7 separate regions of the Homo sapiens genome follow, and regions 1, 2, 3, 4, 5 and 6 are each linked to region 7. Evidence: fine-mapped expression QTL. A gene starts in region 7. Each other region holds a variant in brackets. All regions are shown on one strand. Distances are between the middles of the regions.

Region 1 (4,066 bases), 46 kb after region 7:
ATTCAAGGTGTGAGGAGGTGACTGCAGCACCATCCCCAGGCCCACACCACCGTCCGTTCGGCACACCTGGAAACATCTCAGAGTGGCGAGTGTGGACCGACACAGGGGCAGCCTACACGTTTCGCGGTTTAGAAGCCAACCGTGTCAAACACCAGCTACGCAGGTTCCTTGCTGGTGGGTGAGGCCCAGAGCTCCTGGCAGGGACCCAGGCCCTCACCAGGGCCTTCTTGCAAACGGGGCGCCTGGCTATGATCCTCCCTTCAGGCATCGGCTGGCTTCGGAGGCCCATGAGGGTCCCAGGCCTGCCCTCCTCTCACCCCTCCCGCCCTTGGCTGTGCCCGGCTGGAGCCCCCACAGCTCCGCCCCAGCAGCGCAAGGCCTTCCCAGCAGCCCTGGGTGGGTTACGGGTGTGGACCTGGAGTGCTCCCCACTTCCACCCTTAGCGTTCCGAGCACAGGGCAGCGGGAGGCAGGAGGCCCGGCCCGGTCCCTGCTGCCGGTGGAAGGAAAATGAATCTTGGGCCCTGAATCACTGAGCTAAGGGGAGGAGTAAGGCTGGGAATGTGTCAGACAAACCTGCCTCCCATCCTCTTCCTAAACAAGAGCTGCAGAGATAAACGGCCACAGGCCTCCCTCATCATTCACCCACGAGGAAATTCCTTGTGAGCCTTAAGATCTCTGCCCTAAGCAGTTTTGTGGAGTTTCACGCTGGGAATGCACGTGGACAGCTGACCGTCAACAGGCGCAGGACAGGGACAGAGATCACGGTCCTCCCTCTGCTCACCTGAGACAAGTGTGTCCGACAGCTCCCTCTGGGCTGCTCATGAAAAACCGCAGTCACGGAGCCGGACGAGGATACAAGTGACTCTCCCTCTAGTCCCCTCACGTGTAAATTGTGTGTTCAGTGAAAGGCTGATCGAGACCCAAAGAATGCAGCCCTGTGTCTCCTCTACCTACGACCTGGAAGCCCCTCCTGCTTCAGGCTGTCCCTTTCCGGACAGAACCGACGTACCCCCTCACAGGTGCTGATTGATGCCCCACGCCCCCCTGCAATGTATGACGTCAGGCCGTGCCCCGCCTTGGACACACGTCGTTGGACCTCCTGGGGCTGTCTCGGCGCATCCCTAACCTTGGGAACTTCCTAGAACTTTCTAACTGGGCTGGGCTCTGACGCAGGTACTTTGGGTTCAGTGCCTGGTGGGACAGCCGCGCCGTCCACCCGCTCCCCGCGGCCCCACAGCCCCTACCCAGCTCCTTGTGAGGCTTCCTAGGGCGGCTGGGAGGGTCCCCCTCGGGCTGCAGGCCTCCCAGACTCCTGCTTCGCTGAAGTTCAGAGGCCTCACTGGCCGCCTTGAGGTGCCCAAGGGCCACTCCTGAGGGCAGGGCCCTGAGGCCGGGCCGGTGCCTCCTGTGTGTGGTCCCCGTGTCCTTCTCCATCCTCCAGCCCAGCCTCGGCTTGAGCACAAGGCTGCCACCCTCACACCCAGCCGTCCCGCAGGGAGTAGTCAGGAGGTGCTGGGAGTGCGTTGCCATGGGTCTGCTGTGACATCACTGTAAGGTCAGAGGCCAAAGATCAGCCGATCCCTGGCAGCACAGCGTGGCTTTCCTGCAGGCCGGGGCTGGGGCGGGTTCTGCGTCTTCCCTTCTTCTTTCCCGCAGGCCGGGGCTGGGGCGGGTTCTGCGTCTTCCCTTCTTCTTTCCCGCAGGCCGGGGTTGGGGCGGGTTCTGCGTCTTCCCTTCTTCTTTCCCGCAGGCCGGGGCTGGGGCGGGTTCTGCGTCTTCCCTTCTTCTTTCCCGCAGGCCGGGGTTGGGGCGGGTTCTGCGTCTTCCCTTCTTCTTTCCCGCAGGCCGGGGCTGGGGCGGGTTCTGCGTCTTCCCTTCTTCTTTCCCGCAGGCCGGGGCTGGGGCGGGTTCTGCGTTTTCACATCTCTGGTCTCTCCACCAGGGAGGGCG[G/A]GGAACTGGCACCAGCCCTAGCAGGGCCTGCAGATGAGACGCCGGTCTCCCTCTGTGACAGGGTATTTGAATCTTTCTCTCCCTATCAGGGCAAATGGGACACAGATCAACTCAGGAAGACAAAGGCAGCCCCTGCAGGCAGTGGTGGGGTGCAAATGCTGCCGGCCCAGCGCCTCTCCCCACCCACACGGCGCCAGGACGAAACCCTGATGTGGCCGGGGCTCCGGCGAGGGCTTTCCGGGCCGACGGTGTGAACTGCACAGGTCAGCGTGGGTTTGCTGGCACTCCCAGGCAGGCGGCTTAAACAGCGGGAGCTCATTCCCTCCGGTGCTGGGGGCAAGGTGTCTCGCAGCGCTGGTTACCCGAGGCCTCTCTCCTTGGCGCGAAGATGACGTATTCCGTGTCCTCACGTGGTGGTCCTGTGTGCTGCGTCCTCGTCTCCCCTTCTCATGAGGACGCTGGTCACACTGGGTCAGGGCCTCGCTTTACCTTGACAATCTCTACAGCTCCACGCCCAAGTGCAGCCACACCCTGAGGTCCTGAGGGTCACAGGGTCACAGCTCCAGCATGAGGATTTGCCGGGACAGAGTTCAGCCTGTACTGAGCCGAACAGAAAATCCCCGGCACGCTGTCTCCTCCAGCCTCCAGACCACGGTGGGTGGGGAGGCAACATTTTACCTCTTGGGGTTTTTTGGTCGGGCCTGATAATTAAAATCAGCAGATGAGCTGGAGAAAGGCACACGCACTCCAGCACGGTCTGTGTGGCCGGGAATGGCCTTTCCTTCCTGAAAGAGGAGGTAACACCCCACGGGGAAGACGCTCTCCAGAGCCAGAAGAAAGCAGCGTTCTTATCCTTGTGGATGGCTGTTTCAGCTCAAAACAACCCTTACAACAGTGTGGCTTATTTGGGCAGCCCCTTCTGCCCCTTGACAGGCACCTCGCGAGCCGGCGCACCCCCCCGCCCCCAGGACCCGCTTCCCGCACCCGGGGCTCCTCAGCCAGGGGGAAGCAGGTGTGACCCCCAGGCTGCAGGCTCCCCTCCTTCTGATCTCTTCTTTTGAAGAGCCCACAGCCTCTCAGCACCCAGGAGGCCTCAGCTCTCTGGGCAAGTGGTGGGTGCAGGGTGGGGGCCTTGGCCTCACACACGCTCTGGCACTGCCTGGCCTCCTGGGACGGTTCCTCAGAGGCACCTGCTTTGGACACTCTGATGTCGGGAGCCCCGCGGATGCTGCCAGGATGGGAGAGGAGGCCGCTGTCTCTCTCCAACAAGTGCTGGGTCGTCTGGAGCAACAAGGGCAAATGGGCGTCACTGGGGTCTCCACAAAGCCACCTGCAGTCTCTTGGTGGGTGTATTAGACAGTTTCCATGCTGCTGATAAAGACATACCTGAGACTGGGTAATTTATAAAGAAGAGGTTGAATGGATTCAGTTCCACATGGCTGGGGAGGCCCTGCGATCATGGTGGAAGGTGAAAGGCACGTCTTACATGGCAGCAGCAGGAGAGAATGAGACCAAGCAAAAGGAGAAACCCTCATAAAACTTTCACATCGGATCTCGTGGGACTTATACCACGAGAACAGTATGGGGGAACCGCCCCATGATTCAATCACCTCCCACCAAGTCCCACCCACCACACAGATTCAATCACCTCCCACCGGGTCCCGCCCACCACACAGATTCAATCACCTCCCACTGGGTCCCGCCCACCACACAGATTCAATCACCTCCCACCGGGTCCCGCCCACCACACAGATTCAATCACCTCCCACCGGGTCCCGCCCACCACACAGATTCAATCACCTCCCACCGGGTCCCGCCCACAACACAGATTCAATCACCTCCCACCACACAGATTCAATCACCTCCCACCACACAGATTCAATCACCTCCCACCACACAGATTCAATCACCTCCCACCGGGTCCCGCCCACCACACAGATTCAATCACCTCCCACCGGGTCCCGCCCACAACACAGATTCAATCACCTCCCACCACATAGATTCAATCACCTCCCACCACACAGATTCAATCACCTCCCACTGGGTCCCACCCACCACACATGGGAATTATGGGAGCTGCAACTGAAGATGAGGTTTGGGTGGGGACACAGCCA
Region 2 (4,000 bases), 39 kb after region 7:
TGATGCTGGTGATGGGAATGATGGTGGTGATGTGATGATGGTATTAATGATGGTGATGATGATGATGGTGATGATGGTGATTATAATGGTGATGATGACAATGGTGACGGTGATAGTGGTGATGGTGATGATGATGATGGTGATGATGGTCATGATGATGGTGATTATAATGGTGGTGATGATGGGGATAGCGATAGTGGTGATGGTGATGATGATGGTGACAGTGATGGTGGTGATGATGGTCATGATAGTGATGGTGATGATGATGCTGGTGATGGGAATGATGGTGGTGATGTGATAATGACGGTGATGATATTAATGATGGTGATGATGATGATGGTGATGGTATTAATGATGGTGATGATGATGATGATGTGATAATGATGGTGATGGTATTAATGGTGATGATGACGGTGGTGATGATTATAATGGTGATGATGATGGTGATGGTGATTATAATGGTGGTGATGATGGTGAAGGTGATGATGGTAATAATGGTGATGGTAATAGTGACGATGATGGTGATAGTGATAGTGGTGATGGTGATGATGATGGTGACAGTGATGATGGTCATGATAGTGATGATGATGATGATGCTGCTGATGGGAATGATGGTGGTGATGTGATAATGATGGTGATATTAATGATGATGGTGATAATGTTTATGGGGATGATGTTGCTGGTGGTGATGATGATGATGGTTGTGATATAATGATGGTGTTGATGCTGAGGATAGTAATGGTGGTGATGATGATGATGATACCCCATGATGATGATGATAAGCTTTCCTGGGTGTGAGGCACTGCTCTGAGAGCTTTCCCAGACAACCCTGGAATGCGGGTACTAATATGATTCCTACTTTATAGAGGAGACAACTGAGGCACAGGGAAGTATGATGAGTTGTTTTGAGCATTTACTGACAGAACCACACATCCACCAAAGCCCAGTCTCTGAGCTTCCAGGCCTGTGCCCTTTTCACCATCCCAACGTGATCCCCCACAAGAGGTTCTGAGGACCCATGGGCACCTTGAAGGTTAACCCAGGCCCCAGAGTCTCTGATAGTGCTGAAGTGTGCGTGAGTTGGAGTGTGGGAGGGTAAGGAAGAGGCTAGACCAATCCTCAACACCAGGGAGCTCTCCTGGAGCTGCTGGCCCCAGGTCTCTGCCTCCCTATCCAACACATGGCTATTGTGGGGTAAGTTCCCAGAAAAGCCTCCCAGGCTGGCCCTGCCAGGCAGCACAGGCGCTTTCCTGGTGGCTTTGGCTCTGCTTGTCTTGCGGTTTTCCATTTTTACCTCCTCAGCATGGTCTCCCAGATCAATCTCCACAAACACAGATGCTTTCTGCGAATGGAAACCACAGAGGTGTGGATGGCAGGCTTGGGTGAGCTGGAGAGGAACGTTGATTCCCTGGGAGGAACAGTGGCCCCTGGCCCTTGGGGCAGCCGGGGCAGACCCTGGTGATGACCATCAGGTCCCCAGATCCTGGCAATGCTGAACGAGGGCTCCTGGGACGCTGGGCAGAGCTGACGGCAGTATGGACTGTGAGGTGCCCATGTAGGAGAAGGATGTAGGAGGGATATGGCTTTCTCACCCCTCCCTACTCACCTCCCATCAGGGCCCTGAGACCCCAGAGGGTCTCCTCCAACCTCATCCTCTGAGAACTCGGGCCTCCAGGAGATGGGGCAATGCCCAGATCTTGGGGAGCCGGGCTGCTCCCACCCCAGCCCTGCTCGACAAGGCAGCACTCCTGCCCCACAGCCTGCCTGTGGGCCACACTCCACACCAAGGAGCAGGAGACCCCCCCCGGGATGTGAACGGCTTCAGCGGCTCAGGGTTTTGCTGTCCCAAGGCCTCCAACGGGGCACCTGGGCCAGCCCAGAACGTGTGTCTGATGGGAGCATTTGAGTCAACTCCAAGGGCAGTGTCTGGGGGTGGGTGAAGGACTTCCCAAGAGCCCTGGAATGAAAGCAAGGCCCGCCTGGCAAGCAGCGTGTCTGGTTGTGTTACCGTCCCCACCACACAGCTTGGAGGGAGAACAAAAGCCACTTTCCTTCACACGGTGCCACGTGAGAACCCCCACAGCATGACGTGTCCCTGGACAACACATCAAGCCTGGGGCTCTGGGTGTTTTCTGGGCCAAGGTCAAGCTGAGGGCACCTCCTCTCAGGGCCTCATACACCTTTAGTGACTGCACGTTTGGCAAGCAGGGGTCAGGCTGCCCTGGGATCGGGTAAAGAGTCTCAGAGCTTGGCCCCAAGCCTCTCTAGGGTAGCAGGGGCCCAGTCAGTCCAGCTTCACAGCCTGGCGCCTGCTGAGCTGACCCCCAGGCCACCGTCCCGGGCAGGTCCAGGCTCCGGCAGAACTCCCGCCTGGACAGGCCTCCCTTCTCACTTCTATTACTAAAGGGAAAAGCTCTT[A/G]CCTCTTCTTCCTGAAGGTCATTTAGCTTTATGGACTCTGCCTCCTGTTCCTGTAAGACCAAAGAGGTTAAGTGAAGGCCGGGCTCCAAGGCAAGAGGAAAAAATGCACCGCTCCTCAGCGTGGCCCAACCTTGGCCTCCTGCAAGCCTCCGTCTGCGTGCTCGCCTTCCTGCACCTCCTGCATGCTGGCCTCCAAGTCGCTCTTCTCCCTCTCTGGGTCTTGTTTTCCACTCTCATGACCCAGCTTCCCAAGGGTGCTGAAGCTTTCCTTCTTGTCTTGTGCTAGGTTTTTCTGACTGCGGGAGGAGCAGGGAAAGTGGTTTGGAAGAGACGGCAGATAGCTGCGGGCAGCTCCTGGTCTCCTCTGGGTCTGTCTCCTTGGGCTTGAGGCTGGTGCCCCTGGGGTCTGGTGGGCACCTATGAGGTGCCCTGACCCAGCACAGAGTTCTGGCTCTGAAGGGCCCCACAGCCTGGCCCTCCTGGCTCCCTCTGCTGGCCCATCTTGCCTGGAAAACTTACCCTGTACAGCCAGGGTCTGGACTGGGATTACAGCCAACCTGGGCTTATTTTGGAAAGCAGGGTCTAACCTTGCTCAAAGAACCAAAATCTGATGAGAAGATGCAGCCACCCTGTCGCAGATCCACACTCCATGTGGATACCAAATGGGCCATGCTGGCCAGTAGGCTGGAGGGTCCACGGTTGGCCCTGCTGTTACTCGCACCAACCTCGTGACCCCTTCTGTGGTCTGCTATGGTGTGTGGCCAGGGGCAAGAGGAATGCAACAGGCAGTGAGGATGACAGGGGCTCCGCCACCATCTGCAATGGCGTTGACTTGGCCGAGGGTATTGACTGACTTGGCCAACGTGAGCAGACGCTTTCAGCTTTGCCACCCTAAAGGTGTGTGGTCTTCCCAGCTCAACTGCCCTCACCAAGGCCATCAGCTTCCCTGAGCTCTACGGAGTGGGAGGCTCCAGGCGCCGCACACATCCTGTCTAACACACGAACACTCACTCTCACCAACTGATTGCACCTTTGGCCGCTTCGGCGGCCGGACACCTTCCTTGGTCTCCACTCAACGGGAGCCATTTGTAAATAAGGGGGACTTGGCCCGTGCCTTGCCATGGTGCTGGTAAATCGACTTTGTTAGATCTGAGACAAATTTTTGAGGAATTCAATGACTTTTAAGTCTTCTTTGATGGCAGGAGGGTGAGTGGGTGGGAGAACCAGAGCTGGGTTAGAACGGGACGCGAGGTGCAGGGAGGCAAGAACTCGGCAGTACGAAGTGGGGATGTGCTGTCCAGGGCCCCACGCCCTCTCCCTAAAGGAGCACTCGAGTTGTTTACATCTAAGGTGGGCCCAGCAGTCCACTAGTGAGACGACGCCTCCTTCCCCAGAGGGCCATGGGGTGTCTACTGAGAGGGATGCAGCTGTGTGACCCTCAGGCCAGGGCCCGAGTCCTGAGGACACCACCCCGCTACAGGTGGGTCCTGTTCCCACGCTGAATTCCTCTCAAAATAAGGAGGATTTCCCAGCCCTCCCATCCAGGCCCTGCGCGGGGTCTTCGCAGGACCCAGGGCTCCCT
Region 3 (4,061 bases), 27 kb after region 7:
CCAACCGTATTTCCGGAAGCTTCTCTGGGTGCCTTTCTGGTTGGCACAGTTGGAGGCCGCAACTGAGTCACACCCAACTGCCCGGCAGCCTGTCCAGGACAGCCCGTCCAGGGCCCATTTCCGGTTGTCTGGGAAATGATGACTCTGGGGCCGATGGGCACTTATCTTCTGTGGTGTCTTTCAGTCAAGGGTGGGTGCTGGCTTTGGGGGGTCCCCTTTCTCTCTGCAGCCTGGATGGTGCCCCACTTTGATCAGAGGAAACTACCCAGTGGGACAAGCTCTGCGTGGCATGCGGCTCCCTGAAAAGGGCCCCTCCCTCCCTGGCTGAGTGATGGGCAGAGCTCACCCTCTGGGAGCCTCTGCATTATCATGTGCACCACAGGGACGGCCCCCATGTGTCTCCACGGGAATAGACAGTGCACACAGCATCTCCGCCTGTGGCCTCTGACTGCCTTAGAGACACCCGGATCAGAGATGCTGCAGGTCACCTGCCCGTGCCCTCCTGTGCACATGTGTGGTATGTACGAGCATGTATGTGCTGTGTACATATGAATATGCACGTGTGCGTGTCTGAACGAGAGGGCTCTGGGTGGATTCTGGTGAAACTCGTCTTACAGGCATGTCCTGGAGCCCCCCACACCCCTAGGAAGACTCCCTCTCCTCCTCTGAGTGGGGAGCATGTGGCTTCCCTCCAGGGACAGATCCTAGTGCCAGCACCACAGTCTCTGTTGCTCTCGCAGTCACAGCCGGGGCTCAGCTGCGTCCACCGTGCTCCTGGCTCCTGCAGGGACTTTGGTGACACAGCAGATGCTCCATCCCTGCCCTGCACCTCTCACTCCTGCCTGGTGGGGGTGCTTCCAGGAGCTGCAGCTCACACGAGGCCCACAAAGGGCTGAGCCTCCCCTGCTGTGCCCCAGGGGCCTCTGTCCCCACCCAACAAGCCACTGAGCAAGAGGCCAGGGCAGGAAGGGGCTGGAGTCCTCCAGCTGGTGGAGACGAGGAGCAGCTGGTGGAGACGAGGAGCATCCGGTGGAGATGAGGAGCATCCGGTGGAGATGAGGAGCATCTCGTGGGGAGGAGGAGCATCTGGCAGAGACGAGGAGCATCTGGCGGAGACGAGGAGGAGCATCTGGCGGAGACGAGGAGGAGGATCTGGCGGAGACGAGGAGGAGGATCTGGCGGAGACGAGGAGGAGGATCTGGCAGAGAGGAGGAGTAGGATCTGGCGGAGAGGAGGAGTAGGATCTGGCGGAGAGGAGGAGCATCCGGCGGGGATGAGGAGCATCCAGTGGGGATGAGGAGCAGCTGGTGGAGAGGAGCAGCAGCTGGTGGAGACGAGGAGCATCCGGTGGAGATGAGGAGCATCTCGAGGAGAGGAGGAGCATCTGGTGGAGAGGAGGAGCATCCCGTGGAGACGAGGAGCATCCCGTGGAGACGAGGAGCATCTGGCGGAGACGAGGAGCATCTGGCGGAGAGGAGGAGTAGTATCTGGCGGAGAGGAGTAGTATCTGGCAGAGAGGAGTAGTATCTGGTGGAGAGGAGGAGTAGTATCTGGTGGAGAGGAGGAGCATCCGGCGGAGAGGAGGAGCATCCGGCGGAGACGAGGAGCATCCGGCGGTGACGAGGAGCATCCGGCGGAGATGAGGAGCATCCGGTGGAGAGGAGGAGCATCTCGAGGAGCGGAGGAGCATCTGGCGGAGACGAGGAGCATCTCGTGGAGCGGAGGAGCATCTGGCGGAGACGAGGAGCATCTCGTGGAGAGGAGGAGCATCTCGTGGAGAGGAGGAGCATCTCGTGGAGCGGAGGAGCATCTGGCAGAGACGAGGAGTAGTGTCTGGCGGAGACGAGGAGTAGTGTCTGGCAGAGACAAGGAGTAGTGTCTGGCAGAGACGAGGAGTAGTGTCTGGCGGAGAGGAGGAGTAGTGTCTGGCAGAGACGAGGAGTAGTGTCTGGCAGAGAGGAGGAGCATCCGGCGGAGACGAGGAGCAGCCGGCGGAGACGAGGAGCAGCCGGCGGAGACGAGGAGCAGCCGGTGGAGACGAGGAGCATCTCGAGGAGAGGAGGAGCATCTCGAGGAGAGGAGGAGCATCCGGTGGAGAGGAGGAGCATCTCGCAGAGAGGAGGAGCATCTCGCGGAGACGAGGAGCATCTGGCGGAGACGAGGAGGAGCATCTGGCGGAGACGAGGAGTAGGATCTGGCAGAGAGGAGGAGTAGGATCTGGCGGAGAGGAGGAGTAGGATCTGGCAGAGAGGAGTAGGATCTGGCGGAGAGGAGGAGTAGGATCTGGCGGAGAGGTGGAGTAGTATCTGGCGGAGAGGAGGAGTAGGATCTGGCGGAGAGGAGGAGTAGTATTTGGCGAAGAGGAGGAGCATCCGGCGGAGACAAGGAGCATCCGGTGGAGACGAGGAGCACCCGGTGGAGACGAGGAGCATCTCGAGGAGACGAGGAGCATCTCGACGAGAGGAGGAACATCCGGTGGAGAGGAGGAGCATCTGGTGGAGACGAGGAGCATCTGGTGGAGAGGAGGAGTAGTATCTGGTGG[A/AGAG]GAGGAGTAGTATCTGGTGGAGAGGAGGAGCATCTGGTGGAGAGGAGGAGCATCTGGTGGAGAGGAGGAGCATCTGGTGGAGAGGAGGAGCATCTTCCCGTGCTTGTTTATTGTGTTTGTTGAAGGTCACGTCATCACTCACCCAGTGGGCAGTGGGTTTCAGGCGTGGCTCACACCTGGTGTGGTCATCGGCACCCCAGCGTTGCTCAGAGCTGGCGGGATCTTTAGCCCAAAGGCGCAGTCTGTGCTCTCGCTCCTTCCAGGCCTGGCCAGTCCCACAAGAAGAAAACAGAAACCTCAGTGCCTGGCAGAGAAGGCTCTTGGGCGGCAAGTAGGTGGCCGGATCGCCCTCCGTCCCGCCTCCTGTGCCCCCAGCCCCTCTGCACCCCGTCTCCTTCCTCTTCTTCGCCAAGCTCTGAGCACCCTCTCCGGGGCGCTAGGTGCTCTCCTTTGCCCTCTTCCTGGTGGAGTACGGGATGCAGCACACCCAGCTGGTCTGCATCCTGCAGGGCGAGAGGAGGGCAGGTGGGTGAGAAAGGGTCCTGGGCCAGCACTGTGGCCACAGGCACCCCGAGAGCAGCACCCCCAACCTGAAGTGCACTGGGAGGTCTGCCCTGCACTTGTGTATGCACCCCCTTTCATCAAGTGCACTGGGGAGTCTCCCCTGTACCTGCATATGCACCCCCGTTCATCAAGTGCACTGGGGGGTCTCCCCTGTACCTGCATATGCTCCCATTTCATCAAGCACACTGGGGGGGTCTCCCCTGCACCTGCATATGCATCCCCTTTTATCAAGCACACTGGGGGGTCTCCCCGCACCTCTGCATGCAACCCCTTTCATCAAGCGCACTGGGGGGTCTCCCCTGCACTCTGCCTGCACCCCCTTTCATCAAGCGCACTGGGGGTCTCCCCTGCACTCTGCATGCACCTCCTTTCATCAAGCACACTGGGGGGTCTCCCCTGCACTCTGCACCCCCTTTCATCAAGCACACTGGGGGATCTCCCCTGCACCTCTGCATGCACCCCCTTTCATCAAGCACACTGGGGGGTCTCCCCCGCACTCTGCCTGCACCCCCTTTCATCAAGTGCACTGGGGGGTCTCCCCTGCACTCTGCCTGCACCCCCTTTCATCAAGCACACTGGGGGTCTCCCCTGCACTCCACATGCACCCCCTTTCATCAAGCACACTGGGGGTCTCCCCTGCACTCTGCCTGCACCCCCTTTCATCAAGCGCACTGGGGGGTCTCCCCTGCACTCTGCCTGCACCCCCTTTCATCAAGCACACTGGGGGTCTCCCCTGCACTCTGCCTGCACCCCCTTTCATCAAGCACACTGGGGGTCTCCTCTGCACTCCACATGTACCCCCTTTCATCAAGCACACTGGGGGTCTCCCCTGCACTCTGCCTGTACCCCCTTTCATCAAGCGCACTGGGAGTTCTCCCCTGCACTCTGCCTGCACCCCCTTTCATCAAGCACACTGGTGGGTCTCCCCTGCACTCTGTATTCACCCCCTTTCATC
Region 4 (4,075 bases), 210 kb after region 7:
TCTTCTTTCAATGACCTTGGTGTTACACTTTGCTCTCTTTGGATATACTCTTCTGTTCACATATCAACCCATTGACAAGTGGACATTCATTCATTTCCAAAACAGCATTATTAGATCATGTCTGAACAATCTACTTTCAAAGGATTTGAAGCCACATAAATGACCAGTACACAACGGAATAATTTTTGGAGGGTTCAAAGTAAGAACTGAAGGAAGAACGGTGGAATCAGGTATCTGAACCTGAAAGAGCCCATCCTGCCAGGTGCATCCCAAGGGGCTCACTGGGCCTGAATTCAAAATGGAGGCACGCGACCTTTTGCTCACTAGAGGTCACACGCCAGCTCTGCGTTCCCGGAAGTGCTGGAAATTTCACAGCTGTCTGTTCATGCTGCTGGAATCAACCAAGGCCAGAAAATCCCAATTTGCCCTCTGGACCAAACCAATAGACTGCTACCAGGCTCTACCAAACAGAATGAAGCAAGTCTGCCTCCCTTATCTGCATAAAGGCCAGAATGAGATCCTGGGCAGGAATTCCCTTGTGGAAGACAATCGCATGTTTCTTCTCTGGAATGCACCTTTGTTTTGTTCCAAAGGCAGCATCTCCCAGTTTGCAAACTGCTTGCTGGAATAATGTCTCTTTCCCCTTTTTTTTTTTTTTTTTGAGATGGAGTTTCGCTCTTGTTGCCCAGGCTGGAGTGCAATGGCGCAATCTCGGCGCTCACCACAACCTCCGCATCCCAGGTTCAAGCAATTCTCCTGCCTCAGCCTCCCGAGTAGCTGGGATTACAGGCATGCACCACTATGCCTGGCTAATTTTGTATTTTTAGTAGAGACAGGGTTTCTCCATGTTGAGGATGGTCTCGAACTCCTGACTTCAGGTGATCCGCCCGCCTCAGCCTCCCAAAGTACTGGGGTTACAGGCGTGAGCCACCGCGCCCGGCCTGTCTCTTTCCTTTTAAAAGAAATTTTTTTAGTGGATTTGTTGACACATGTAAGGTGAGAACAGCTGAACGTAAAGCTACACACTGAGCTTCCGGATAGCCAAGGTGAAAAGGGAAATATGGAAATATGAATCTTACACAAGTCACATTATCTGATAAAAGGAAGCATGTCAGACTTTCAGGAAAGACAGTACTTTAGCCCACAAGGCAATACAAGAAATTTTTTAGGGAATTCTTTTCAAAAGGAATATTGGACAAGTTAGGGGAGGATGTTTTTAATCTCAAATGACACTCACTACAGGGCCTAGAACATGGTAAATGCTCAATGAATGTTTGTTGAATGAATGTAGTAAAAATATAACATTAAATCATAATTCTCGCATAAAATTTATGTAGGCACTTAGAAGTCAAAGAAAGTAGCTTTCTAGTGACCTGATGAGCTGCGAAAGAACACATTTGGAGAATCTAGAGAGATGAATAAATAGCCACCGAAGAGTCTTTCTCAAACATTAGTTGAGCCACACAACTGAGAGAAGCAGACAGGTCCACTCCAAGATTCCTGTGGATGCCGAGGCCTGGTGGTCTGTGTTGTTGATGGACAGGAGACGCAATGCTGTGCTGGGTTTATCAACTACAGTCGGAGGCTCAGGTGGGCCTTACCACGGAGCATCATGGTCTCGCTCTCATCTTCTTGAAATGCAGAGAGAGAGGAAAGAAGCAGCCTAGACCCCCGAGTCA[T/C]GAAGCAGACAGCAGTGGGTGTAGACACGGTGGCGGTGGGTGTAGACACGGTGGAGGTGGGTGTAGACACGGTGGAAGTGGGTGTAGACACGGTGGTGGGTGTAGACATGGTGGAGGTGGGTGTAGACACGGTGGAGGTGGGTGTAGACACGGTGGTGGGTGTAGACACGGCGGTGGGTGTAGACACGGTGGAGGTGGGTGTAGACACGGTGGTGGGTGTAGACACGGTGGTGGTGGGTGTAGACACGGTGGAGGTGGGTTTAGACACGGTGGTGGGTGTAGACACGGTGGTGGGTGTAGACACGGTGGAGGTGGGTGTAGACACGGTGGTGGGTGTAGACACGGTGGCGGTGGGTGTAGACACGGTGGAGGTGGGTTTAGACACGGTGGTGGGTGTAGACACGGTGGTGGGTGTAGACACGGTGGAGGTGGGTGTAGACACGGTGGTGGGTGTAGACACGGTGGCGGTGGGTGTAGACGCGGTGGAGGTGGGTGTAGACACGGTGGTGGGTTTAGACACGGTGGTGGGTGTAGACACAGTGGTGGTGGGTGTAGACACGGTGGAGGTGGGTGTAGACACGGCGGTGGGTGTAGACACGGTGGCGGTGGGTGTAGACGCGGTGGAGGTGGGTGTAGACACGGTGGTGGGTTTAGACACGGTGGTGGGTGTAGACACGGCGGTGGTGGGTGTAGACACGGTGGTGGTGGGTGTAGACACGGCGGAGGTGGGTGTAGACACGGCGGAGGTGGGTGTAGACACGGTGGTGGGTGTAGACACAGCGGTGGTGGGTGTAGACACGGCGGAGGTGGGTGTAGACACGGTGGTGGGTGTAGACACAGTGGTGGTGGGTGTAGACACGGTGGAGGTGGGTTTAGACACGGCGGTGGGTGTAGACACGGTGGAGGTGGGTGTAGACATGGAGGTGGGTTTAGACACGGTGGAGGTGGGTGTAGACACGGTGGTGGGTGTAGACACGGTGGCGGTGGGTGTAGACACGGTGGCGGTGGGTGTAGACACGGTGGTGGGTGTAGACACGGTGGTGGTGGGTGTAGACACGGTGGAGGTGGATGTAGACAGGGTGGTGGGTGTAGACAAGGTGGAGTTGGGTGTAGACACGGTGGTGGTGGGTGTAGACACGGTGGTGGTGGGTGTAGACACGGTGGTGGGTGTAGACACGGTGGTGGTGGGTGTAGACACGGTGGAGGTGGATGTAGACAGGGTGGTGGGTGTAGACAAGGTGGAGTTGGGTGTAGACACGGTGGTGGTGGGTGTAGACATGGCGGAGGTGGGTGTAGACACGGTGGAGGTGGGTGTAGACACGGCGGTGGGTGTAGACACGGTGGAGGTGGGTGTAGACATGGTGGTGGGTGTAGACACGGTGGTGGTGGGTGTAGACACGGTGGCGGTGGGTGTAGACACAGTGGAGGTGGTTTTAGACATGGTGGTGGGTGTAGACACGGCGGAGGTGAGTGTAGACACGGCAGAGGTGGGTGTAGACACGGTGGTGGGTGTAGACACGGCGGTGGGTGTAGACATGGTGGAGGTGGGTGTAGACAGGGTGGTGGGTGTAGACACGGTGGAGGTGGGTGTAGACACGGTGGAGGTGGGTGTAGACACGGTGGTGGGTGTAGACACGGTGGCGGTGGGTGTAGACACGGTGGTGGGTGTAGACACGATGGTGGGTGTAGACACGGTGGAGGTGGGTGTAGACACGGTGGTGGGTGTAGACACAGTGGCGGTGGGTGTAGACACGGCGGTGGGTGTAGACATGGTGGAGGTGGGTGTAGACAGGGTGGTGGGTGTAGACACGGTGGAGGTGGGTGTAGACACGGTGGTGGGTGTAGACACGGTGGCGGTGGGTGTAGACACGGTGGCGGTGAGTGTAGACACGGTGGAGGTGGGTGTAGACACGGTGGTGGGTGTAGACACGGTGGAGGTGGGTGTAGACACGGTGGCAGCACCGCACGGAACACTCAAAGCCCACTTTCTGGCTGTGATGGCCGAGGAGAGCTGCCTCCCCTCCGAGTGGCCCATCCTAGGTACCCTTGAGCCTCACAAGCTCAGTTGCCAACCTCCCTGCTTCAGGGAGGGGTGGGGCAGCGGGTGGGACAGGAAATTCACCAGGTTGTGCAGGGCAGGGCAGGAGAGCAGAGGGAGACGCTCACGCCCCCGCCCCCAGGCCCGCAGAAGCCGTGGGTGCTGATGAATGCCCCTCAGCCCACAAATCCCTGGCACCTTGACTGTGACAACGATCGCGGCTGCTTTCATTATACTTAGGAGTTGTGAACCACCGCGTCAATTACTTTTATTTCTTCAAATAGTTTCCTGTGAAGCTAACTCATCTCCCCAGATTGTCTCCCAATTTCTTCGTCTGTAAAATGGGGCTGGCAGCAGT
Region 5 (4,075 bases), 180 kb after region 7:
TCACAAGGAAGATCCAACTTAACACAGAGAGTTTTTCCCAAACAGCAGAACTGGCAGCAACACAGGCATCCTGCAGTTCAGTCCACTGCATGCAGCGTGCAGGTGTCGGAGGGCGAGGCTGCCGTGGGCTCCCGGCGGACGGTGGCAGGGCAGGCCCAGGTCTCTATCACAGCAAGGCCTCTCCACTCGGCCCCCTCCACCTGTTTACAACCTCAAGCTGGGTCAAAACCCCAGGGGTACTCAGAGGGAGTGTTTCTCCCCAACTGGATTCCTTAAGCCAGAGGGCAGGCGGCAGGGTCCTGGCCTGACAAACACACACGGGCCCCCGAACACGACCGGCTCCGTGACCGTCACAGGACGTTCAGGTGGCTTCATTTTCAGTCCACGCCTCTGGTGCCAGGGTCTTGCTTGGCACTTGTGTGAACGGCGACCACGTGAAGCCTCTGTCTTGAGAAAAGTGTAAACAGCAGCTGCCTTTCAAGGCACTGAGGCCTTCCTCGAACTCAGCTCGTTTGTGCTGCGTGGTTCCCAGTCCAAACCCTCCTGTTCACAGCCTCCTCTTGCCTCAAGCATCTTAGAGCTCCACTCCAATCCACACCCCAGCTGCCTTTTACAAAATCCCAAGCCAATGACAGCTTGAAAATAAAGTGAGAAAAACACCGACCAACATTTACTCAGCACCTACGGTGGGCTGCGGACGTTGACACAGGGTCCTCTCTAATCTTCCATACAGATCAGCCATGAGGGCCGCGGAGAGGAGAAAAGCACAGCTGAGCTGTTTTCTCTTAAAGCAACATAAACGTCAAAGCAAAACTGGAGCCCAGGACTCTCTGACTTAAGCTCATCCTCCTTCTGCTCCATCCCGGCTGTGCACACCTGGAGACCAGGCCCTCGAGCCTCCAAACGCCGTGAGCAGCCTCCTCCTGCTGTGGCTTCCAAAGAGACGTCACCAGAGGCGGGGCTGGCGCAGGGCCACGAGGCAGGCGACTGGGTCTCTTTGACCGGGGGTGGCCTCGCGGCGGCACGAGACTCAGCATCGTGTGGGTCTAGCTCTGGGAATCGAGGCAGCCCCCAGAACACCCTTGGGGCGCAACTTCCCGGTGAACGTCCCGTCTCCTCAGCCACCCACAGATGCTGCCACAGCTGCACCCTCAGGGCAACGAGCGTCTGGCGGAGCCCAGTGAGAGCCGTGAAACACAGACCTCAGGGCCAGGCCCTCTCCCCATCACAGAAACCTGACCAGTCACAGGTGGCTGCAGCCTGGGTGGTTGGTAAAAGAAAAATTATTCCTTCTATAACCAGAAAAAAATAGTGAATCAACAGACACAGAAATGCTCAGAATAAAACAAAAAATCTAAGTCAGTGGGACAGAATTCAGCAGTCCCCAGGGGGGCCTGGAAGCTGGACCCCTGCTCTGGGTCTACGGGCTTACATGGCTGCCAGGACCAGGGAGAGACAGACCCGGGCCCCTGACCATACCCTGTGCTGTAACGCCTGCAAGGTAGATTTTAAGTAATTTAAAAATTATCAAAAGGATAACATTTCATGCCTGTGAACATTACGTGCAACTCAAATCTCAGTGTCTGAAATAAGGTGAAATGGATACAGTCCGGCTCACTGGACGGCACCGTGCCTGC[G/A]GCTGCTTCCCTGCACAGCTGCATGACCCCTGGCCCTACACAGGACAGGTTCTGCGCACTCGGCCGCCACCTTCCTTACACGGCTTCTCAGGAAAGCAGCAGGCAGCTGTGGCCCAGCGTGAGCCGGCAAAGCACTTCCCTCCCAGAGCCCCGTTTCCTCATCAGCAACAAACACAACAAGCTTCCTCCCCTGGCTGCTGTGAGGACCGACAGCCCCTCCTGGCACCTGCACAGGGCATGACACGCACATCACAGCCGCCTTCACCCGCTCAGCCTCCCGCGTCCCCACAGCCCGGACCGGAGCCTCAGAGCACCAGGACACACCCATCCGGACACCGGCAGGTTTGACACCACAGACTGTGCTTGGCTGGGGAGTGAGAATCCTCCTGAGAGAGCCACGGTGTCCCAGGTCGGGGGCAGCAGAGTGAGGGTCTGGCCGTGGGCCCCGGTCGGGGGCTGAGCCACGCTCTGGTCAGGAAAGACATCGCCAGACACCTGTCATAATCCAGGGCTGCTCAAAGTAAAAAAAAAAAAAACCTAAAACTGCAACATGGAACGGCACAAACGAGCTGCAGGCCGAGTTCTAACGGGCTGAGCCTCAAACCAGCTGCAGGCCGAGTTCTAACGGGCTGAGCCACAAAGAGCTGCAGGCCGAGTTCTAACGGGCTGAGCCTCAAACCAGCTGCAGGCCGAGTTCTAACGGGCTGAGCCACAAACGAGCTGCAGGCCGAGTTCTAACGGGCTGAGCCTCAAACCAGCTGCAGGCCGAGTTCTAACGGGCTGAGCCACAAACGAGCTGCAGGCGGAGTTCTAAGGAGCTGAGCCTCAAACCAGCTGCAGACCGAGTTCTAACGGGCTGAGCCACAAACGAGCTGCAGGCCGAGTTCTAACGGGCTGAGCCTCAAACCAGCTGCAGGCCGAGTTCTAACGGGCTGAGCCACAAACGAGCTGCAGGCGGAGTTCTAAGGAGCTGAGCCTCAAACCAGCTGCAGACCGAGTTCTAACGGGCTGAGCCTCAAACGAGCTGCAGGCCGAGTTCTAACGGGCTGAGCCTCAAACGAGCTGCAGGCCGAGTTCTAACGGGCTGAGCCTCAAACGAGCTGCAGGCCGAGTTCTAACGGGCTGAGCCTCAAACGAGCTGCAGGCCGAGTTCTAACGGGCTGAGCCTCTAAGGAGGGAAACGTCACTTCCTGCCTCACACAGAGCCCAGCGTCTCCATGTCCACTGATAGCCTTGGTATTTGCAACTATGTCCATGACCATCTCTGTTTCTCCAAAACAGCCTCTAGCTACATAAACTGTTTAGAAAACCTCATGCGTAAAGCAGAGTATGTCAAACCTCCATCTGTGGTCAGGAGTTAGGACATCCCCAGCTGCAATTTGAGCAAAGACGGCGCTTCCAGAGGATCATCGGATCCTGTGTCTTGGTTGGGGTTGGGGCCCATCAACTTAAAATAGCTTCTGTTTATGCTGGTGAAGGAGGCACAGACTTCACCCTATCTAATTCCAAGGAACAGGCGAGGGTGGGAGCTGTAGCGGAAGAGACAAAAGCAAAAGGCAGATTCGCCCCTTTGTGTGGTCCCGTAAGTGACACTGTCCCTCCCTCTCCCTGGAAACAGCAGCCCCCAGGCACCCCCCCCAGCAACTGGGACAAGGGCACACCAGGCTAATTTTTAATCAGATGGATTTAGTGATAGCAAATAAAGAGAAGGAGAACAAAACCCTCAGCCAGGCTATTGTGAATGGGTGTTACCAAAAAATGGCATTAGCAGGGCACCAGGGGCCAGGCCAGCTCCAGGCAGCCCCGCATCTGCTCAGCAATCCCCGGAGTCTTCTAGGGGGCCTGGGGCAGCCGGAACCTGGCCGGGTGGAGGATTTCTACCACGAGAAAGTCAGGGCCCTCCCCGAAGGAGCAGAAGCTCTGCGGGTGACTGTTTGGGAAGCTGGTCTGCTCCTGATACTCTGCAGGAAGAGAATCACACTCTTTAGACCGGGGTCTCAGATTTCAGCCGGACGGGAACTCTCTGCAGGGCCGGTGGAAAGAGATCGCCAGCCCCAGCTCTGTAGGGGTGCGGCCTGCCTCGAGCACTTCACACGCGTGCCCGGGGATGCTGGTGCTGCAGGTATGGGGACCCCGCTAGGAGAGCCCCGGGTTAAGGGTTGGTAACTGGAGAATGGGGTGGGGGTATGCCAGCTCTCCCTGCTTGCCCTGGTCCCACACACTCAGGCCTGTGTGGCCAGCGTGGTCCTCCTTTCCCACAGCCAAGGTGCCCCGACTGCCAGCGTCCACTCCCCGTGGGGCCGCAGGGTACACCAACATCTGAGGCAGAGGCACCGCTGTGGGCTCATCTCTCAGCTCAAAGGGTTTCCAAGAGAATCCTCAGCAAAAAAGCAACACTCGCCGTTCAGAGAGTGAATGAGAGGCCAGCAGGGGGCTGG
Region 6 (4,075 bases), 65 kb after region 7:
ACACACATGCACTTATCCCTCTGGAAAACAAAGGAATGAAAAAATAGGTCCTCTAAAGAAACTTGGCAGTACAGAGGTTACAAGTTAAATTCCATCTAAAAATTATCTATAGAACCTATTATACAGGTAATTGTCCCCCAGATAGCTGCCTACCCTGCAAAAAGCTTTTCGCATCCATCCGTGCTACAAAGACAACTACATGTAGCCCACACTACACCAGAGGCTCAGACCACAGGTTTTCACCCCACAGCATGCTCCTGAGGCCGGGGCCTCGCCAGCCATCCCCTCGCTGCACAGATCTGTGTGCCGGGCAGACTCACCCTGCATCTTCTCCAGCTTGCTCATGTACAAGTTGAAGAGGGAGTAGATACGCTCCGTCTCACGGTCCCCATCAATGTCCAGCTGGATGTTGGCTGGGAGGCCGCTGTCCAGACACAGCAAGAACAGAAAGATAAAAACACTTATTTAAACGATGCTTTTAATAATGACATTCATTTTTAAAATGTCACTGAAGAAAGACAACGATTGTGTTGGAAGTGAAATTCGACAGGATCGATTTGCTGTCCGTCTGTGCACAGCCGGTGTGTTGGCTTGCTGAGCAAGGCTGACAGCGTCCACAGCAGCACGGACAGCAGTGTCACCAGGCTGCAAACCGGAACTAACTAGCAACCTCTGCTTCAGTTACCATTGGCCTATTTGGACACGTGGCAAAAGATCCTTGCTGTTTAGTATTTAAAATGTGCTTATCATTTGTACTAACTGACCTTTCCTGAAATCACGCAGTACTGAGTTATGTCTTGTTTAAATCTATTCCTACTCCAGAATCTTATCAATACATAAGAAATTTAGGAAGACTAGGTGCTAAAATCCCCAGTGTAATATGTAATACTTGTACATTTTTAGTATCATACAGAACTCAATTCCCAGGAACTATGAACACTCCAGACCTCATGTGGTTTATTCCTTCAGTCATTTCAAACACAGAAGGAGGCTGTGTGCTTGTTTCCCTGCTCATTCTATGTCTGCTTCTCCTATGTTCACACCAGCACACGTCAGGCTGGAGCGCGGTGGCACGATCTCAGCTCACTGAAACCTACGCTTTCTGGGTTTAAGCGATTCTCTTGCCTCAGCCTCCTGAGTAGCTGGGATTATAGGCACACACCACCACGCCTGGCTAATTTTTGTATTTTTAGTAGAGATGGGGTTTCACCATGTTGGCCAGGCTGGTCTTGAACTCCTGAGCTCAGGTGATCCACCCACCTCGACCTCCCAAAGTGCTAGGATTACAGGCGTGAGCCACTGAGCCCGGCCTCATGTCTTTTTATAAATCTTACTTTGTGTTATTATGAAAAACCTCCATAGCCGGGTGTGGTGGCTCACACCTGTAGTCCCCACACTTTTGGGAGGCCGAGGCAGGTGGATCATCTGAAGTCAGGAGTTCAAGACCATCCTGGCCAACATGGTGAGACCCTGTCTCTATTAAAAATACAAAAATTAGCCAGGTGTGGTGGTGCACACCTATAATCCCAGCTGCCTGGGAGGCTGAGGCAGGAGAATCGCTTGAACCTGGAAGGTGGAGGTTGCAGTGAGCCGAAATCACACCACTGCACTTCAGCCTGGGCAACAGAGCGAGACTCTGCCTAAAAAAAAAAAAAAAAAAAAAAAAAGAAAAGAAAAGAAAATCTACATTGTACAGAAGCACGTCTTTGATGGCTTCAGACAAAGTGGCCTCACGGTTAATTTCACATTTGCACGCAGGTGCAACCAACAGGGAGGGCCTGATAGGAACGCGCGGGGCTGTTATTTTTAGCAAAATGCTGCCTTGTGCAGAACGTGTGAAATATGCTCTTTAATTTAGTAAATACTTTTTAAAAGGCAGAAATGCTTATTATAGCTAAAACAATTCTTAAATCATAAAATTTCTGAAACGTCTGTAATTTTTTCCATACTGATTAGAAATTGTTTCCAACTTATTTTTGTTTGAAGTATGACAGTTTTTCCCTTTTCTTCCCAACTTCTCTTGTAAAAAAAGAAGTGGGTTTCTGCTAATGAACTGATCAGATGTCAATACTGTATATGCCTTTTGAGCTGAGTAGCTCAGTATTTGGATACTTGGTCATTTGTTTTATTAGGTAATTGATAAAATTGTGTCACTTATTCATGTTCAACCATATATTTATGCTGTCTGGGGATGGGTGGTTATAG[T/C]TCTGTGTGAGAAATAATTTGTCAGTCTTCAACAGCTTGTAAAAACTTTGCAGTGAGAGCTTAAACATCTAAATAAATAATGAAATGCATTTATCATAAAAAAAAGAAGAAAGAAGATGAAGTGACCAACATTAAAACACATCCCTGGCCAGTCAGGGAGTTCATGTGGGTAATCCCAGCACTCTGGGAGGCCGAGGCAAGAAGGATCGCTTGAGCCCAGGAGTTTGAGCAACACCACCCTGGGCAACATGGAGAGACCCTCACAGTGAGACCTGGCAACATAGTGAGACCCCGTCTCTACAAAAAACCAAAATTTAATGAGCTGGGCTGGTGGCATCAGCCTGTAATCCCAGCTACTTGGGAGAGTGAAGTGGGAGGACTGCTTGAGCCCAGAAGTTTGAGACCAGTCTGGGCAACGTGGTGAAACCCCGTTTCTACAAAAAACCTTAAAACAATTAGCCTGGAATGGTGGAGCACACCTGTAGTCCCAGGTACCTGGGAGGCTGAGGTGGGAGGATGGCTTGAGCCTAGGAGGTCGAGGCTGCAGTGAGCTGAGATTGCACCACTGTACTCCAGCCCGGGTGACAGAACGAGATCCCATCTCAAAGACATAAAACTAAAAAAGCATCCCCGAGCTGGGAGAACTGAGGCTGGCTGTGGGTGTGCGGGATAGGGGAGGCTCCCGAGCTGTCCGGCCTCAGCGGCTGGAGCCTCTTGGGACCCACAGATCTGCCAAGGCAGTGAGCAAACTCGGCAGACGTGTTCTCATGGAGATAAATGGCCTGGAAGGAAGCCTCCTGGGACTGTGTTCCCTGCACGGTCGGCTGCGGGTGGGGACAGGCCAGGTTTTCTCTCCTCGTCAGGCTGCAATGCTTCCCGCTGTCCTGGGATGCGAGGACATGGGAGAGCGCTGGCCTCTCCTGGGGGATTCTGGGGCGGTGGCCACGCATGCCTGAGCAGCAGCCAGGCCCCCTTCCTGAGCTTCAGCCTCTGTGTCCACGAAGCAGGATCTAAGGTCCCACCTCTGAGGCTGTGGGAGGATTAAACGGTGGCCCAGCATGGAGCACAGCTCATCCCCTGCAGGGCCCTTATGCGAAAGCATCACGTGGCCACAACAACAGCGAGGTGCATCTCACGGAGCATAACCAGGGGGACCGCCAGGCACCCAGGCCTCCTCCTTAGGACCGGCAGATATGACCCAAGCCTCTGTGCAACTGCCAGAGGCCCGGCTGATGGGGGGCCCTGCTGATGGGGGGCCTGACAGGGGGCCCAGCTGACGGGGGGCCCAGCTGACGGAGGACCCAGCTGATGGGGGCCCGGCTGATGGGGGGCTGGCTGACGGAGGACCCAGCTGATGGGGGGCCCGGCTGACGGGGGCCCGGCTGACGGGGGCCCGGCTGACGGGGGGCCCGGCTGACGGGGGGTCCGGCTGATGGGGGTCCGGCTGACGGGGGGCCCGGCTGACGGGGGGCCCGGCTGACGGGGGGCCCGGCTGATGGGGAGGCCCGGCTGATGGGGAGGCCCGGCTGATGGGGGACCCGGCTGATGGGGGGCCCGGCTAATGGGGGGGCCCGGCTAATGGGGGGCCCGGCTGATGGGGGACCCGGCTGATGGGGAGGCCCGGCTGATGGGGAGGCCCGGCTGATGGGGGACCCGGCTGATGGGGGGGCCCGGCTGATGGGGGGGCCCGGCTGATGGGGGGCCCGGCTGATGGGGGGCCCGGCTGATGGGGACCCGGCTGATGGGGGGCCGGGAAGACAACGGGCTGCTGCGTCATGTGGAATCAAGGTGGGTGTCCTGGGCCAGACGAAGCTTTCAGGGAGGGGCTTGCTCCCAGCCTCCTCCTAGAGAAGCAGGATGGCCACGGCCT
Region 7 (4,075 bases):
ACTGGAGAAGCAGAGGTTGCACAACGTCGTGAATCCAGCAAATGCCGCCGAAGTATATGCTTCAAGATGGCTGTTAAGTGAATTTCACTCCATAAAAGGTGTGTTTTAGAGGGTTATGCCCATGAGCGAGCCTACCTATACATGTGCAGTGTCACATTACTGAGACGATTCTGTTTAGAGCAAAGCCACCTACCTCCCACGTCCCTTTCCAGCCTGTCTTCTTAGCCACCTGCCTCCCACATCCTTCTCCAGCTTTGTCTCCTTGCATGCAGCCCTCTCAGGGCTTTTGAGGCCTGGAGGCCAAGGGTGCTGGGAGGTCCCACTTTGTACCCTCTCCCGAGAGCTTTGAGGGGTACCTGCCGCCTCTAGCTGTGCCTTCTCTGTGCCCTTCAACTCTGGAGTGAGGTCAGATCTTGGCTCTGGGGCCACCACCAGCTGTTTCAGGCTTGCAAAGTTCTGTCCGACAAAATACAGCTCCGCTTCCCTGTGGGGGGAAGCATTGGCCCCAACAGGCCTTCTTCACCAACGGGGACAGCAGTCCCTTGAGTGGAGCCCTGGACTCAGGGAGCTCTGGTCAGTGAAACTCTCAGCTAGGGGCTAAGGGTATGGGGACCTTCATATGTGGGACAGGCTCCTCGCTGGGGACGCTGCCACCAGGCCTGTGAGGCAGCCAGCCAAGTTCCACTTGCTGCAGCTGGGGCTGCTCTGGACGGCCAATCCAGACACCTCCCCCCTCTCCACCCTCTTTCCATCCTCAGGTTTGCATTTCTTAGGTCTGGCACTTCAACTGCAAAGTACAAGTCCTGGGCTATCTCCTCCTGCTCTGCTGAAGGCCACATCGATGCTTGGAAGGTAGGGTCAGCCCAGTCCCTTGCTCCACACACCCAACTACACTGATGGAGCGACCGTCTACACAGGGATCCTACGGTGGGGAGTGAGCCTTGCTGGCCTGATGCATGGCAGTGGTTCCTGCTCCAATAAGACCAAGAATAATTAATAACTGTGACTAAGTTAGAAGCTTTGGCTGCATCTGAATTCACCAGCGTTTCCAGCTCCTGAGGCCATGTGCGGTGTCACCTCACTCCTGGCAGACAGACTCCCACTCGGAGGATGATTTTTCATAGCCAGGGTCGCTCTGTGGACCTTGGATGGACCAACGTGCTTTCCATGTCCAACTTTGTCAAGATCCGGGGAAGATTCTCCAGCAAGTCTCTTGGAAACATGTGCATGTGGCCCCAGGCGACGTGAGGGGTGCAGTCTGCCTGCGTTATGCAATGCTCAGGCCAGTTTTCCCTGAGAGAGGAATGCTGCCGATCCTCTGCGGTAACCCACAAAACTCCACGGAGATGCTTGGAAGGAAAAGCATCGCGTCCTCCAGATGTTTTGAAATGTTCAAGTATTTAAAAGGGAAATGGAATTTCTGTTTATCCTTTTAAGTGACAATTATTCATTGCGTCTTCCTGGCCACAGCTCATTCAGCACTACTGCAGATCCGGCCAGACCCCCAGGAGCCGCGGCCCCTGCACAGCCAAGGCCAAGAAGCTCCCATCGTGGAGGGGGGCGCATTCCGGACCTGTGAGGCCCGGGGTTCGTTTTTATGCCTCCTTAAAGGGATGAGCCAGAGAAGAAAGTCTTCGCAAAGCCTTTGCCCCAGGAGGGGCGGGGCTGCGCAGGGCGCCTGTGGAGGCCGTGGCCGGGCAGGTGGGGAGGCTCACACACAGGCCAGAGGCTTCCCTGGAAACTGACGCCCTAGGGCAGGTCCAGCTCCTGGATGGTCGCAGGTGAAGAAACGCCAGGCCCAAGGGTCCTGGGAGAGAGAGGGGAACAGCGCCCAGGAAGAGGTGCAGGTTCCCAGGGACTGCAAGGGCCGCCGCCACCCTCCCACACCCCACCCTCGCTGCATCACCAGTCAGCCCAGGGCAGGCTGCTGACCCTCCCTTGGCCTCAGTTTCCTCATCTGTAAAATGGAAAAAGAAGCATGTCCACCTCACCAGTGGTCACAGTCACAGGTGCTGACATGGAGAAGGATTGATGCGTCCTCCTGAGTGCTGCCTTGTCATGCTATAAACCAGGAGGCCTGGCTCTCTGCCTCCCGGGAAGGTCTGTTTCTAATCCTGTGCTGGGTCTGCGTGGCTCCATGGCCTCAGAGGCTGACACCGAGTGTGGTGTCCCTGGGTCACCGTGCTCCTTGGTTTGGTCCAGCAGGAGAAAGGGCAGCCTGCCAAGGAGAAGGCTGTGAGCTTGGCAGGGGAGAACTTAGGCGCTGTGCCTTTGGGAGGCTGGGATTTAGATCACAGCTGGGAAGCTAAGTCCTGACTGCACTGGCCGGAACCAATGGGCTCCAGTAGCCGGATGCTCTGCCAAGTCAGGAGGTAATAACCGCCACGGCCTGGGAGAGAAGCTGGCACAGCCGTGGGCCCCTGCCCTGCGGTCTGGCCTCGCAGGTCCCCAGGCCGTGTACAGACACTGTGCGGCAGGGAAGCAGAGGCAGCCATGGGGAGCAACCCTGTTTCTCAGTGCTACATGCCTACTCTCCCTGAGCTGATGTCTGGAAGACAGTAAAGGAGACCTGAGGCAGTGCTGCCCCTCCTTCCGTCTGCCACCTCCTCAGGGCTGGCCCAGGCCCTGCAGAGCAGGTGGTGGTGGCTGCTGGTGGTAAAGCCCGTCCATCCAGAGCCTCGCTCTGCTCCCAAACCACCCACCTCCCGCTGCACATGTGGCAGCTTCAGGAGCCTGGCGGGGCTAAGAGGAGATGACAGACCCCAGCAAGGACAGGCTCAGCTTCTTGGGGACCGAGTCATTGCCTGTTGCTTCTCCTGGGGGCCTCGACTGTCCGAGTGTGTTCAGGCACACGGTGCCCTGTCTGTTTCCCAGGCACTTGGGCCAAGGCTGGACAGGGAGGTGCCATGTGGGACGAAAGCCCAGGCTGTGCAGTGCTGGTCACCGGGAGTGACCATGGGTGAAGTCGCGCTGTGAGTGACTGCCTGTTATCACTGACCACGCAGGGCCATCCTGGGTGACCCGCTGTGCCACAAGCAACTGGTTCACATTGGAGCCCCCCTCTGGAGCCCTGGGCAACCCGCTGCCAGTGGGCCTTTCTCCTGAGGCCCCTGGAGTCCCGGAGCATCCCGTGAGTTCATCTGCCATACCTGTGATTGCCATGTGGGCCCAGCGCCCTCCAATGGAAAAGCTGCATTCAGTTCTGCCCGAGGATCCCAGGCCTACGACACTGTCCTCAGGCTGCCAGGGAGCAGGAGGCTGTGGGGATCTGCGTTCTTGCCAGGCCTGGGAGCAGCAGCCAAAAAGTGGACTTACGTGGACAAAATGTTGGGCCAGGGAGGAGCCCTCGGCTCTGGACGGATGTCTCTGGTGCTTTTATGCCACGTGCATTTCTGCAGATTTGATGCCCGGCAGCCAGCACTGGGCTGTGGCCATGGTGGTGAGGCAGCCTTGGGTCTGCACGAGGCTCGGAGGCCTCCAGGAACCTCCCAGGAATGTGACTGTGCCTGGAGAGAAGCGCCATCTGCACGGCGCAGTCCAGATGCTTCTCTCCTACAAGCCCATCATCAAACACACAGCTGCCCAGACTTCAGCAGGATTTGTGCACAAGAAACGCAAAGGCACAGTCCATCGGGTGAGGCAGAGGTGGAAGGAGCACCGGGGTGGGAGTGGAGGAGCACCGAGGTGGGGGCGCAGGAGCACCGAGGCGGGGGCGCAGGAGCACCGAGGCGGGGGCGCAGGAGCACCGAGGCGGGGGCGCGGGAGCACTGAGGCTGAGCTGTCTCTAGTGATCTCTCAAGCCTCAGTGCAGTGGCCACAGGGCAAGGTGCCTCCTGGTGTGTCCTCGCCTCCAAATCAGGCTGCTCCACTTCCCAGGTCAGAGTCCTGGGGGGTTGTGTTGACCCTGAGCCCCCACGAGCATCCAATCCAGCAGAGCTGGAAGGACCCAAGAACCTGCATTCCTCATGGCTCCCATCATGCTTCCGGTCCAGGAGCCACCATCCAGACCACACTCCCATTCATCCCCTGGCCACGGAAGCTGAAGCCTTGGTTTCCCCACCTGTAAAGTGGGAGT

What was found.
Region 1: its variant is fine-mapped to the expression of SWINGN in whole blood (TOPMed, PIP above 0.99).
Region 2: its variant is fine-mapped to the expression of SWINGN in whole blood (TOPMed, PIP above 0.99).
Region 3: its variant is fine-mapped to the expression of SWINGN in whole blood (INTERVAL, PIP above 0.99).
Region 4: its variant is fine-mapped to the expression of SWINGN in whole blood (TOPMed, PIP above 0.99).
Region 5: its variant is fine-mapped to the expression of SWINGN in whole blood (TOPMed, PIP above 0.99).
Region 6: its variant is fine-mapped to the expression of SWINGN in whole blood (TOPMed, PIP above 0.99).

The regions. Positions count from the first base shown.
Region 1 is chr13:113,972,562-113,976,627 of GRCh38, forward strand. C13orf46 (chromosome 13 open reading frame 46) reads right to left here and starts at 1,515. Exons shown (of 7, transcript NM_001365455.2): 1 at 1,247-1,515. The coding sequence starts at 1,436. The variant G/A (reference allele first, on the strand shown) is at 1,953.
Region 2 is chr13:113,966,047-113,970,046 of GRCh38, forward strand. It overlaps C13orf46 (chromosome 13 open reading frame 46), which reads right to left. Exons shown (of 7, transcript NM_001365455.2): 3 at 2,549-2,714; 4 at 2,421-2,468; 5 at 1,295-1,342. Among named protein-coding and RNA genes, the nearest start is that of C13orf46, 6.0 kb to the right of the region's middle. The variant A/G (reference allele first, on the strand shown) is at 2,419.
Region 3 is chr13:113,953,795-113,957,855 of GRCh38, forward strand. C13orf46 (chromosome 13 open reading frame 46) reads right to left here. Exons shown (of 7, transcript NM_001365455.2): 7 at 1-3,045. The coding sequence ends at 2,979. Among named protein-coding and RNA genes, the nearest start is that of C13orf46, 18 kb to the right of the region's middle. The variant A/AGAG (reference allele first, on the strand shown) is at 2,543.
Region 4 is chr13:114,136,463-114,140,537 of GRCh38, forward strand. No RefSeq gene overlaps it. Among named protein-coding and RNA genes, the nearest start is that of RASA3, 5.9 kb to the left of the region's middle. The variant T/C (reference allele first, on the strand shown) is at 1,680.
Region 5 is chr13:114,108,832-114,112,906 of GRCh38, forward strand. The region is part of intron 1 of RASA3 (RAS p21 protein activator 3); the gene reads right to left. It overlaps RASA3-IT1 (RASA3 intronic transcript 1), which reads right to left and starts at 948. Exons shown (of 2, transcript NR_046544.1): 1 at 1-948. RefSeq lists enhancers at 1,241-1,876, 3,777-4,075 and a silencer at 2,548-2,702. The variant G/A (reference allele first, on the strand shown) is at 1,638.
Region 6 is chr13:113,992,165-113,996,239 of GRCh38, forward strand. RASA3 (RAS p21 protein activator 3) reads right to left here. Exons shown (of 24, transcript NM_007368.4): 22 at 321-424. Among named protein-coding and RNA genes, the nearest start is that of C13orf46, 20 kb to the left of the region's middle. The variant T/C (reference allele first, on the strand shown) is at 2,206.
Region 7 is chr13:113,926,672-113,930,746 of GRCh38, forward strand. It overlaps SWINGN (SWI/SNF complex interacting GAS6 enhancer non-coding RNA), which reads right to left and starts at 2,320. Exons shown (of 1, transcript NR_047495.1): 1 at 1-2,320. It also overlaps a transcript of C13orf46 not described here.